Homo sapiens: one gene and its partners. The protein of the gene in region 1 interacts with the protein of each later gene in a pairwise test. Each region holds a gene or a part of one and is shown in the gene's direction. Other genes may lie near its edges.

Region 1 (3,655 bases):
GAGGGGATGCCTTTCAATGAAGTCACTCATAACTGAGGGCTGTAAAATTAGACAGAGGCAGCCCATGAAAAGCATCAGCATTGCTCTCTAGGAGAGTGATTCTTTCTTTACTTTGTGCATTTGGGAGGCCGCTTTATTAAAGCTCCAGCAGGTAGCTCCTTGGAGCACAGTTTATGCCATCCTAAGAAGAGTGGCTGTGAACCTAAGGACCCACAGAAATGACCACCAGGAGCTAATGAGGTGACATTGCCTGGGATTTTCATCGGACCAATTTCTCCTATAATGTCCGGATGGCCCAGGGCTGGCTCTTCTTGCTTTGGCACACAGAGCAGACCTACCCCAAATCTCCTGTCCAAGGTCATTTTTCCACAACATCCTTCTCTGCCAGAGTCCAGGGTCTTCCTGGCACTTCTGGCCTGGGTCTCAGGGCTGTAGGAAGACCTTGAGCTTGTAGAAAGCTCTTCTAGTGTTGGTTACGCTAGCCGGGGTCCCTGGCCTCTGCACGGGCTCTGTCCTATGGCCCCAGAATAGCCTATGCCCTCCCAGACGACAACTTTTCTCTTCAAGGGCTGATGCTTTTCATGGGCTGCCTCTTTCTAATTTTATAGCCCTCACTCTTCAGTGACTTCATTCAAAGGTGTCCCCATCACAAAGCATCACCCAGAGGCAGAGGAGCACTTCCAAGCTGGCCTCTCCCTGTAATATGGTTGAATTATTTGATCTTACAAAATAAAGAACTTTGACACTTACCAGACACTTTACTTAGCATTTAAGGGTGCACCAAAATCCTCTGTTAACCAGCACACATTTGAGTAGTAAGTATCTTTTTTACTTTAGATCATTATCTTGCAATATTCACACTCTGGTTCCCAGCTTCTCTATAATATGTGCAGATGCCTGGGCACCCAGCTTAAATGTGCACACTGATGATATGCTCACAGCTAATGATTTAATTAGAAACTACTCATGTGTAGAATTTGAAACTGTGATTCTAATTCACAAAGTGTTCTGCGGATTTTAAATGTTTGTCTTCTAAGAAAAGATATAATTTTCTCACTTTATCCAAGATCCCAAATTTTGAAAAATGCTGCAAGCTACCTTTACGTTTTGGAAATATGAAATCACTTTATTACACTAAGAAATATGGCTGCATATTTATATTTTCCTTGAGAGAGATTACAGATTTCTTTGGACCAGTCTCATGAATGGATAGCCTCTATTGTCACATCTGCCTGAAGAACTTTGTTATCTTGAGAAAGCCAAGATTGGCAGCCTACATTCATACCACTCAGGTTTCAGAGTCCTCCATTTAATGATCTCACTCTTTCTTCTGCCATTTCCTTAGCCGAATGTTTCTGCTTGACCTAGTGTTGTCTTGGTTTTGCAGACCCCTCTTCATGGGCATCCTGTAAGTGCCTCTTTCCTGAATTTCTAAGCATTTGGAGACTTGGGCTTCCACAAAAACACTTTAAAGTTGGGAGAACACTCTTCTCAGCTTTAGCAGAGATCACAGAGGAACGAGGATTCCATTATCCCTGCTCTGCTTACTAAATGCAGGATAAAGACCGTTTTGCTGAGGGAGAAATTATATTATTTTTGCATTCTCTTTTCCTGAAGTGCTGACTTTCTGGCCCTTGTTGTACATGGAAAGTGCAGTGGCGTGGAGCATCTTATATAATGGAGGGTAGCAAAATATATACCTCATAAAAAGTGGATGCCTGTGTTTAGATCTCTGCACCCACGGTACTGAGCATCTGGATAGAAGGCAGCTTAAGATAGCTCAGAGTTCATCTTCCTTCAGTGTTTCCTTATTACTCGAAATAATCTAGATTTTGTAGCACTATTTAACCATGCCTGATCAAAAGTAGGCTCCTTTAGAAACCTAGTTGGGTCCCCTTTGAAAAGCTGTCTGTAGCTCTTGTACCCTCAAACCACAGCTGTTGAAGTAGATTTGGTCTTACACCTGCGATAAAAGCCAGCAAATTACCTAATCACAAGGGATTTGAGTTTCTTTATGCCAGTGTATCTAGGACCCTCTCCCTGCACACGCGCTTCTGTCCATTTGCCCAACCTTTTGTTCATTCTTTGATGTGCAATTTTTTCGAATAGTCTCTATCAATTGTACTGTGGGTGACAGTCAAGGGAACACTTAATTCTGGGTAGATGCATGTGGCTTTTGTCAGCACCAAGCCTGGGCCTCATGCTTTCAAGTGCCTGCACACTGTAGTGCATTGCAAAATGAAGTCCTTTTCAAACGTGCACTATAGAATAAGTTGGAAGTTCAGGCAGAGGGAGGGAAATAAATAAGAAAAAAAGTTAGCCAGGGCCTAGAGACAGAGTTCTTTTCATTTCTCATCACCTCCAACACCCTTGGATCACACAGCGCGATTTTTATAACCTGTCATCCCTAAAAGCTCCGCCATGCCGTCTTCATTAATAGCCATCTAACACCGTGGCCCTGCTTTCAGGTACAATTCCTCCACTCATTAAGTCAGTTGTCCAAAACGAAGAAGGGCTGACGACCAACGAGGGGCTCAAGATGCTGGTGACCATCTCCTGTATCCTGGTGGGGGTCTTGCTGCTGTTTGTGCTCCTGCTGGTTGTGCGGAGGAGGCGGCGGGAGCAGAGGCTAAAGAGGCTGCGAGGTAGGTCCAGGCCCAGCTGTCCACCTACGCGTGTCCCCTGCTGCTCTGCAGCCAATGGGAGAGATGCCAGCTGGAGAACAAACCTCAAAAGGGAGTGACTCTTCCCTCTTTAACCCAGGTCCCTCCACTGCCTGGTTCTCTGACATTCCTTCAGCGAGACTGCAGAGCCTCAGGGAAGAGCAATAAGAATGTTCCTATCTCGGTCAGAAATCAGGTGAAAGCCAACCTGTCCCCTAAATCCTAGCTGTTGGTATGCAAGGAAAATTAATTTTTTAACTCTAGTCTCTTAAATTTTCAGTGGGTCCAGCAAAGCCACCAATTGTGGCTTTCTATGAAAAGATCTATCAGATTTGCTCTGGGAATGAGAATTACTTGACTGACTGGAAGTGGAAATTGAGGGCTTAGGATACTGGTGAAGCATTGTGAGGCAGAGGACACATGCCATCCCAAATTAGAAACGGGAGCTGAAGCCCAGTGTAAGAGTTTCACTCTAATGTAGCAAAAACATAATGAAGGCTGGAGAAGCCAGGCCAGATGAGCTCCATTGTGAACAGACACCATGATTATAATGTCCAGCCCCGTGTCGTTCTGTGATGAGGCTGTTCTCAGCTTCTGGCCAAGAGCCCTTACTTGCCCTTGCTCTGCAATGTGAGGACAGGGAGTTATTTCAAATATGAAACTGTGCAGACGTGTTCCCAGGTCCTTTGCCCTTTACCAGTGAGGGTGTTTAACTAAGCCACTTTTTCGGTAACGTGTATTACAAGGGATTTTCATTTTAATATCAGTGCAGTGTGGGATACTGCTATGCAGCATCCTATGTGTGTTTCAAAGTTATGTTCAAAGTACAAATCTGGAAGCACTCTCTCCTCAAAACATATCCCAAACTTTACTGATACATTTAGAAAACGTTGACCTCTTCTGTAAATACTTAATTTGACCATAATCCACTTAGAGCAGAGAACATGGTAATATTTTCACCTGTCTTCACTTATCCAAAGCACCAAAGCACT
Region 2 (3,655 bases), on another chromosome or scaffold:
TAGAGTACTAGTTTTTTCCATATTGATTTATAAATGTTCTTAGTATATTAACGAAAATAACCTTTTGATGTATGTTTTTAAAACTGTTTTTTACCAATTGACCGTTTGTTTTGTCATTACATTTATTACAGATTTTGAGTATCCTAACATAGTAAAATTTATCAGTGTTTTATTTTACAGTGTGTATGGCTCTATGACCTAGAAAGACCTTTTTGGTGCAGAAGTTATAAAAAAATATTCCTATGTTTTCTTCTAGCATTTTTATGGTTTCAGTCTTTTTTATGTATGATAAAAATCATTTGTATATCTGAAACTTACTTGGCATAAGGAGTTAAATAGGGATGCAACTTAATTTTTTTTCTCAGAAGGATACCTGGTTATTATATCACCAGTTATTTAAAAAATCAGCCTTTCCTTATTGATTTGAAGTGCAACCTATATTGTTGTATTATGTTCTCACATGTCTTTAGGTCTATTTCTGGATTCTATTCTGTTTTATTAACCCATTTGTCTAATCATGTACCACTGCCAAACTTTTAATTATCATAGCTATATAATGTTTAATATTTGGTAGGCCTTGTTGCCCCTACCTTTCCTCTTTTTCAGAATTTTCCTGGCTATTCTTGCATGTTTGTTTTTCCATGTGAAATTTAGAATCAGCTTGTCTGGTTCTCAAAATTATCCTGTTGACATTTTTTTATTGGGATAGTATTAAATTTATAGATTAATTTTGGAAGAATTGACATCTTTACAATATTGAGTCTTCCTGTCCAGGAACAGGGTATGTTTTTAAAGTTTTATTTGACTCCTTTTATGTCTTTCAGTGGTGTTTTCAGATTTTCTTCATGTAGGGATTTTATTGTTAAATTTATTCCTGGGTACTTCATCTTTTTAGTTGTTTTTGTACATAATAGCTTCTGTATTTTTTAGCTGATTATTTGTATGTGGGAAAGTTATTGATTTTGATAAATTTATCTTAAACAATATGCCAACTTGCTGAATTTGTATTTATGGTCATTTACCAGGTGATTCTTCTGTTCTAGAGATACATAATCACATCTGAAATTGATAAGAATTTTGTCCTTTCTTTTCTAGTTTTATATGTTTTATTTCTTTCTCTTGTTTAATTGCATCTGCTAGTATTGCCAGGACAGTGTTAAATAATAGTGCCGATAGTGGGCATTCTGTAATGTTGGTTCTCAGTTTGAGATTTATATTTATCATGTCAAGGTGGTAGCTGGCCATGTTATCAGAATTAACTTTCCTTCTAGATGATTATTTACTTTTACTTTATTTATGAATGATGAATTGGATGAATAGATTTGTCAGTATTGAACTATCCTTGCCTTCTGGTATGAATCTCACTTGCATCCTGATGTATTAAGTTTTTTTGGATTCTGTTTGTTAATATTTTTATTTGGAATTTTTCCATTAGTACTTGTAAATAAGATTAGTTGACATTATTTTTGTTAGATTTTGAGTTAATTGCTATCCTGGCTTTATTACTTTTCATGTATGTAAAACTTGAAGCTAACAAATTTTATTAGTGAAGATTTTTAGGGCAATATTTTTAAAACTTTTTTGAGTATGACTCAGAAATGGCTTTTATAACGTGATCTTTGTATGTGTATATAAATAAAGATTTCATGGCAGCACTTATTCCTACTCCGTATAATACGAGTATAATACTTTGTTATGCCATTTTAATATTTTCTGTCCCATTTATTTACTTTTAAAAAATGTTAAGTGTAGCCTAATAAAAGGTCACAAACTGGAGATTGAAAAACACTTAACTTTGGTTCCTGTTTCAGAAAATAGTGTAATTAATTCATCAGTTGTTGATGTATAATTGCTTCATGAGATGATTATGAAAGTAATTTGTAAATTCTGTGGTACTTTTCAAATGTATATCATTTACTGAGTCTGATTATCACACGGCCTGGCATATAATAAGTACTCTATAAGTATTGGCTGATTTCTAATAGGTCTGAAAATTTATCTTTTAGAATTTTTTCTTCAGTTGGTTTAGCGAGTTTCCCTTTGATGTTGAAAATGTTTTTTTTTAAAAATCTAACCTAGACCATCCCAAATCATGAATTACTGTTGTGTGAAACAGTGAGACTACTGTTTTTATGCCACAGGTTTATAATTATGCAAATAAATACTACATCTTTGCATTCATTTTGGTTTTACTTACCGAATTTTCATTCCAGGAATGTCTGAATCTGAACAGGCTCTTAAAGGTACTTCTCAGATTAAATTACTCTCATCTGAAGATATAGAAGGGATGCGACTTGTATGTAGGGTAAGAGTGATTTTTTCTCCATGGGGTAGGAAATGTTTAAGCAGTACTTAGACATGAAGTCAGTGGTTTGCTGATTTATAAAGATAGCAAATGTTATATTGTTAGACTGACCAGCCATGCTTTTTTTTTTTTTTTAACTTTTTTTTGAGACAGAGTTTCACTCTGTCGCCCAGGCTGGAGTGCAGTGGCGTGATCTCTGCTCACTGCAACCTCCACCTTCTGTTTTCAAGCGATTCTTCTGCCTCAGCCTCCTGAGTAGCTGGGATTACAGGTGCCCACCACCACACCTGGCTAATTTTTGTATTTTTAGTAGAGATGGGGTTTCACCATGTTGCCCAGGCTGGTCTCGAACTCCTGACCTCGTGATCTGCCCACCTTGGCCTCCCAAAATGCTGGGATTACAGGCGTGAGCCACCACACCTGGCCTTTTTTTGTATTTTTAGTAGATACAGGGTTTCACCATGTTGGCCAGGCTGGTCTCTAACTCCTGACGTAAGGTGATCTGCCCGCCTCGGCCTCCCACAGTGCTGGGATTACAGGCGTGAGCCATTGTGCCCGGTTTAGCCATGCTTTTCATTAAACTATTGTTAGTATATAATTTTAGTCAACAGTTTTCTTCTTAAAAGCCTATTTCAGAATTAATCTGGTGGATAGTCTATATTTAGATGACAATCCTTTTCATTTATTTAATGATATTTAAAAACATTTTGTCATTTTATTTTCACAAGTCATCATAACATAGGACAGAGTTTAAGGCTCAGAGGGTTATGCTGTAGGCCTTTTTGTGAAATACCTATGATGAGTGGTAGTAGTGGTTGGTACTCATTAGGTGAAATCACATATTTATTCTGAAGGAAAATATAATACATTGATATTATTCATTTAAGTAAGATTCTTAAGGTTTCTATTCAGTGCTTTAAAAGTGATTTGATTCTAATTTTGTTTGATATCCTGGAGAACTTTCTCTTCCTATGACTTGCTGTGATTCTTTGAGGAATTCATTCATCTATTTTTTTTTTTTTGAGACAGGGTCTTGCTATCACTCAGGCTAGAGTACAGTGGCACAATCATAGATCATATAGATCATAGCTCATAGCTTACTGTAACTCCAAACTCCTGGGCTCAAGCTATCCTTCCACCTCAGCCTCCTGAGTAGCTGGGATCACAGGCATGTGCCACTACACCTGACTACTTTTTTTTTTTTTTTTTTTAAGAGACAGGATCTCACTATGTTGCCCAGGCTCATCTGTTCTTTTTTCTTTTCCTCTACTTTTCCCCATTATAGAAATGAGAGAAGACTACCTCTATCAGTTGATGATAGTTTAGATTTCTTAGGATGTATATTTTCAC
Region 3 (3,655 bases), on another chromosome or scaffold:
GCTGTTTATCTTCATCTTTATCATTTCCCCAAGCAAAGACTGACAGTAGAGAAACCAACATTGCTATTGAAGGCTGAGAGGCTTGGCTTGCCTGTAAGAACAACTGCATGACATCCTTTTCTTACACCATGGTGTTGGATAACTCCTAGATGTAATACAGCCCCACTTAATTTTTGTGTAGTTTTGGTCAGTTTTTTTTAGTATTCAGTGTAATGCTATGTGTATGCTGATAGCTGCTGGCATTAGCTGATCTACTCAATAAGTATTATGTTATTTTTTAAAGCCATCCATCCATCCATCCATCCATCCATCCATCCATCCATCCATCCATCCATTCATCTTGGGCTCAAAGCTGTACCTGGAACACACCGAGTATGTTCTCACTTTACGTGCTATTCTTGCTCCCCCAGATGCTCCTCCCCCAGATAATCATATGTATGCACTCAAAGTTCCCCTCAAGTATCACTGTATCAGAAAGGCCTTCTCTGATTACCCTATAAAACTGCCCCCTCCCCATCACTTTCTATTCCTTTGTCCTTCTTTATTTTCCTTCGTTACATATTTACCGAGTAGTATTTGATAAATACGACTTATTCATTTATTATGTATTCCCTTACCCCTCTATAATCTACACTTCTTGAGAGCAGAAACCTGATGTAATTTTTCCTGCTATAGCTCCAGCTATGACAACGGTATGGTGCATAGTAGTGTGTTGATATGTCTTCTTGGCTGTGTTATAATTTCCCATATTGTTTTTTAGCTATTATAAACATAGATAGCTGTCATCGTATATTGCATTTGTCATTCTTTTCTTATTCCTAGCTTTGATTACAATGGTCTTACACATTTTCTTAGAATCATGTGTTGGAGTCAGAGGCCAGAGTAGTTTCCCTATATCTGGCCACTGCTTCTTCAGCTTACCGGGAAGAAGACTAAGATTGTTTTCTTTCATAGTCAACTCTTGATGTAAGCTTGCTGGGTTCAAACTCTCTCTGATATCCTCTTTCCCTTCCCCCTGCCTTTAAAAATTTTGCGTTGTGCGAGCAAGAGAGCTTAAAAGGTGGGTCCTAGCTGGAAGGTGTAAGGATACACATGACTTTCTACCCGGGAAAGGAATATATAGTCTGTAAATCCCAGGACAAAAAAATCATTGGTAAAATTTAAGTGGTTTCAACATGGCATTAATGTATCATTAAAAAAAGAGAATACTTTTGGTTTCTTGTTTAATTGTTATTTATGTGATCTAGAAGTGGTGATTCATTTCTGAATGGAAAGAAGTGTTGCAGTATTGTCTTCTCTGTGAGGATAGAAAATAAAATTCCTTGCTAAATGTTAACATGGGAACATCTTAGAGGTGACCAAGAGCCACAGTCCTGTATTTTTATGAGAATGCAATCTTAGATTTACTTATTTATTTTTGGCGACAGGGTCTTGCCCTGTCACCCAGGCTGTTGTGCAGTGGCTTGATCTTGGCTCATTGCAGCCTCCACCTCCTGGGCTCAAGGGATCCTCCCACCTTAGCCTCCTGAGGACCTGGGACCACAGGCATATGCCTCTATACCTGGCTATTTTTTTTTTTTTAAATTATTGACACAGAGTCTCCCTATGTTGCCCAGGCTAGTCTCAAGCTCCTGGGCTCAAGGGATCCCTTCACCTTGGCCTCCCAAAATGCTGAGATTACAGGCATGAGCCACTGTGCCTGGCCTATAATCCTAAATTTACATTAGTTGTAAGAACTTTAGAAAACTTGTTAACTGCTGAGCTTATTGCAGGTTTAATAAGCCTACCCTGCCCTACAGCTTGTATTTTAATACAAAGTGGAAGAAGAATTAATTGACCTCTGGCTAAAATTACTAATAGAATTGATTCCTATTTCTTTTGACCTTAAGTTTAAATTTCTTAAAGGACTAGTTCCCCAAGAGGTAAACAACCACAAGATTTCTTCAACATTAAGTGATAAATAATTGTGAACTGTAGGGTTTTTTTTTTTTGTAGTTTGTTTTTGATAATGGTATTTCTCCACCATTTTTGTTCTATAACTAGATAGCAGAGGGAGAGAACAAAACCTCTAAGAGTTGGCGCCATCCACTTAGCAGGCCTCCAGCAAGATCTCCGATGACTCTTGTGAAGCAGCAGGCGCCAAGTGATGAAGGTGAGATGGTGACCCTTTTTGGGATTTTTTTTTTTTTTTTTGGTGTGTAAAACAAACTATTGTAAAAAAAATTGCTGAATAGAAAAAAAATTCAACAAGTAGCAAATACGTACTATTAGGAGATCATACATAATAAATAATTTACAGGTAAAAGGAATTTGGAACTTAGAGGTAAAGACGTACTTCATATAAGCTAGCCTTATTACTGGTAAAAGTCTTCCAGTTTTATGTCATGGGGTAAAATCAGTCAGCCTTGACATGTTTTAGGGTTCTACAGAAGAAGCTGAGACTCATTTCTCTAAAGGTGTTAGATTTTAGAGTTAACGTGCTGTAGGTTTCTTTACATTGTCTTTACTTTTAACTTCAACTCTTTACATTAATTTAACCACCTTCAGTAAAAGTCTATGTGCCATATCCTTTTCCATATCCTTTTGTAACTGGTGTGGGGTGAAACATCCTTTTTCCTTCACTAGATCGCTGTGATGCAGCTGGATGTAACGCAGTTTCATTTACAATCATTTACCATTCCTAGATGTAAATTTATCTTTTTCCCCCTTTTGTTCTTTTTTCAAGACAGGGTCTCGCTCTGTTATTCATGCTGGAGTGCAGTGGAGGGTGATCACGGCTCACTGCAGCCTCAACCTCCCAGGCCTAAGTGATCCTCCTACCTCAGCCTCCCAAGCAGCTGGGACCACAAGCATGCACCATCATGCTTGGTTAATTTAAAAAAAAAATTTTTTTTTGTAGAGATGGGTTTTGCTATTGCCCAGGCTAGTCTTGAACTCCTGAGCTCAAGCATTTCTCCTGCCTCAGCCCCGCAAAGTGCTGAGATTATAAGCATTAGCCACTGCATGCCTGGTTACCCTTCTCACCTTTCTTTTATAAAAAAGAAATTTTTGTTGCCTCAAATTAAAAATCAGATCCCTGATTCGTAAGTGTCTTGTATATGTCTCCTAGCATCATGAAGGCCTTATTTTTTCTGTGTTTAGAGGATTAATTCAGGCAGGTTTTCTGTTAAGAGTCCTTCTCTGAAGTATTCTCCAGTTTTACTTATGGAAATTATTACCTAAGGTCATGTGTCTGTGAGAATACTGTTAAGTGAGTAACAAGAAGCTCAAGTTTCTTGTTTAAATAAATTTATCAGAGTAGGTAGATATCTTTCACAGATTTTTTCCCCCTTTCACTCACTTTTCACTTATGTCCCATGTTTAGTTAGAAAACAAGATCATGGCAGGGCATAGTGGCTGACTCCTGCAGTCCCAGCTGCCTGGGAAGCAGAGGTGGGAGCATTGCTTGAGCTCAGGAGTTTAAGACCAGCCTGGGCAACTTGGGGAGACCCTGTATCATAAAAAAGTAAAAATATCATGAATGTAGGGATTAGGGATCATAGTAGTTTGTATGAAACCAATCCAGGGTTGAATTCTGATTCAAGTAATAGAAGTAATGAAACATATTTGCATTGATTTCCATATATCATAATGTTGAGTTCTTTTTCTTTTTTTT

The links.
Region 2: the proteins of DSCAM (region 1) and METAP1 interact in a two-hybrid assay, tested with the Homo sapiens proteins (one large-scale study listed by BioGRID and IntAct).
Region 3: the proteins of DSCAM (region 1) and KDM4C interact in a two-hybrid assay, tested with the Homo sapiens proteins (one large-scale study listed by BioGRID and IntAct).

Annotation. Positions count from the first base shown.
Region 1 is NC_000021.9:40,074,027-40,077,681, reverse strand, and holds part of DSCAM (cell adhesion molecule DSCAM isoform CHD2-42 precursor), read left to right. Parts: intron 1-2,468; coding exon 2,469-2,645; intron 2,646-3,655. UniProt on the Homo sapiens protein: Cell adhesion molecule that plays a role in neuronal self-avoidance. Promotes repulsion between specific neuronal processes of either the same cell or the same subtype of cells.
Region 2 is NC_000004.12:99,037,161-99,040,815, forward strand, and holds part of METAP1 (methionine aminopeptidase 1), read left to right. Parts: exon of another isoform or gene 1-781; intron 782-2,213; coding exon 2,214-2,305; intron 2,306-3,655. UniProt on the Homo sapiens protein: Cotranslationally removes the N-terminal methionine from nascent proteins. The N-terminal methionine is often cleaved when the second residue in the primary sequence is small and uncharged (Met-Ala-, Cys, Gly, Pro, Ser, Thr, or Val).
Region 3 is NC_000009.12:6,988,373-6,992,027, forward strand, and holds part of KDM4C (lysine-specific demethylase 4C), read left to right. Parts: intron 1-2,043; coding exon 2,044-2,152; intron 2,153-3,655.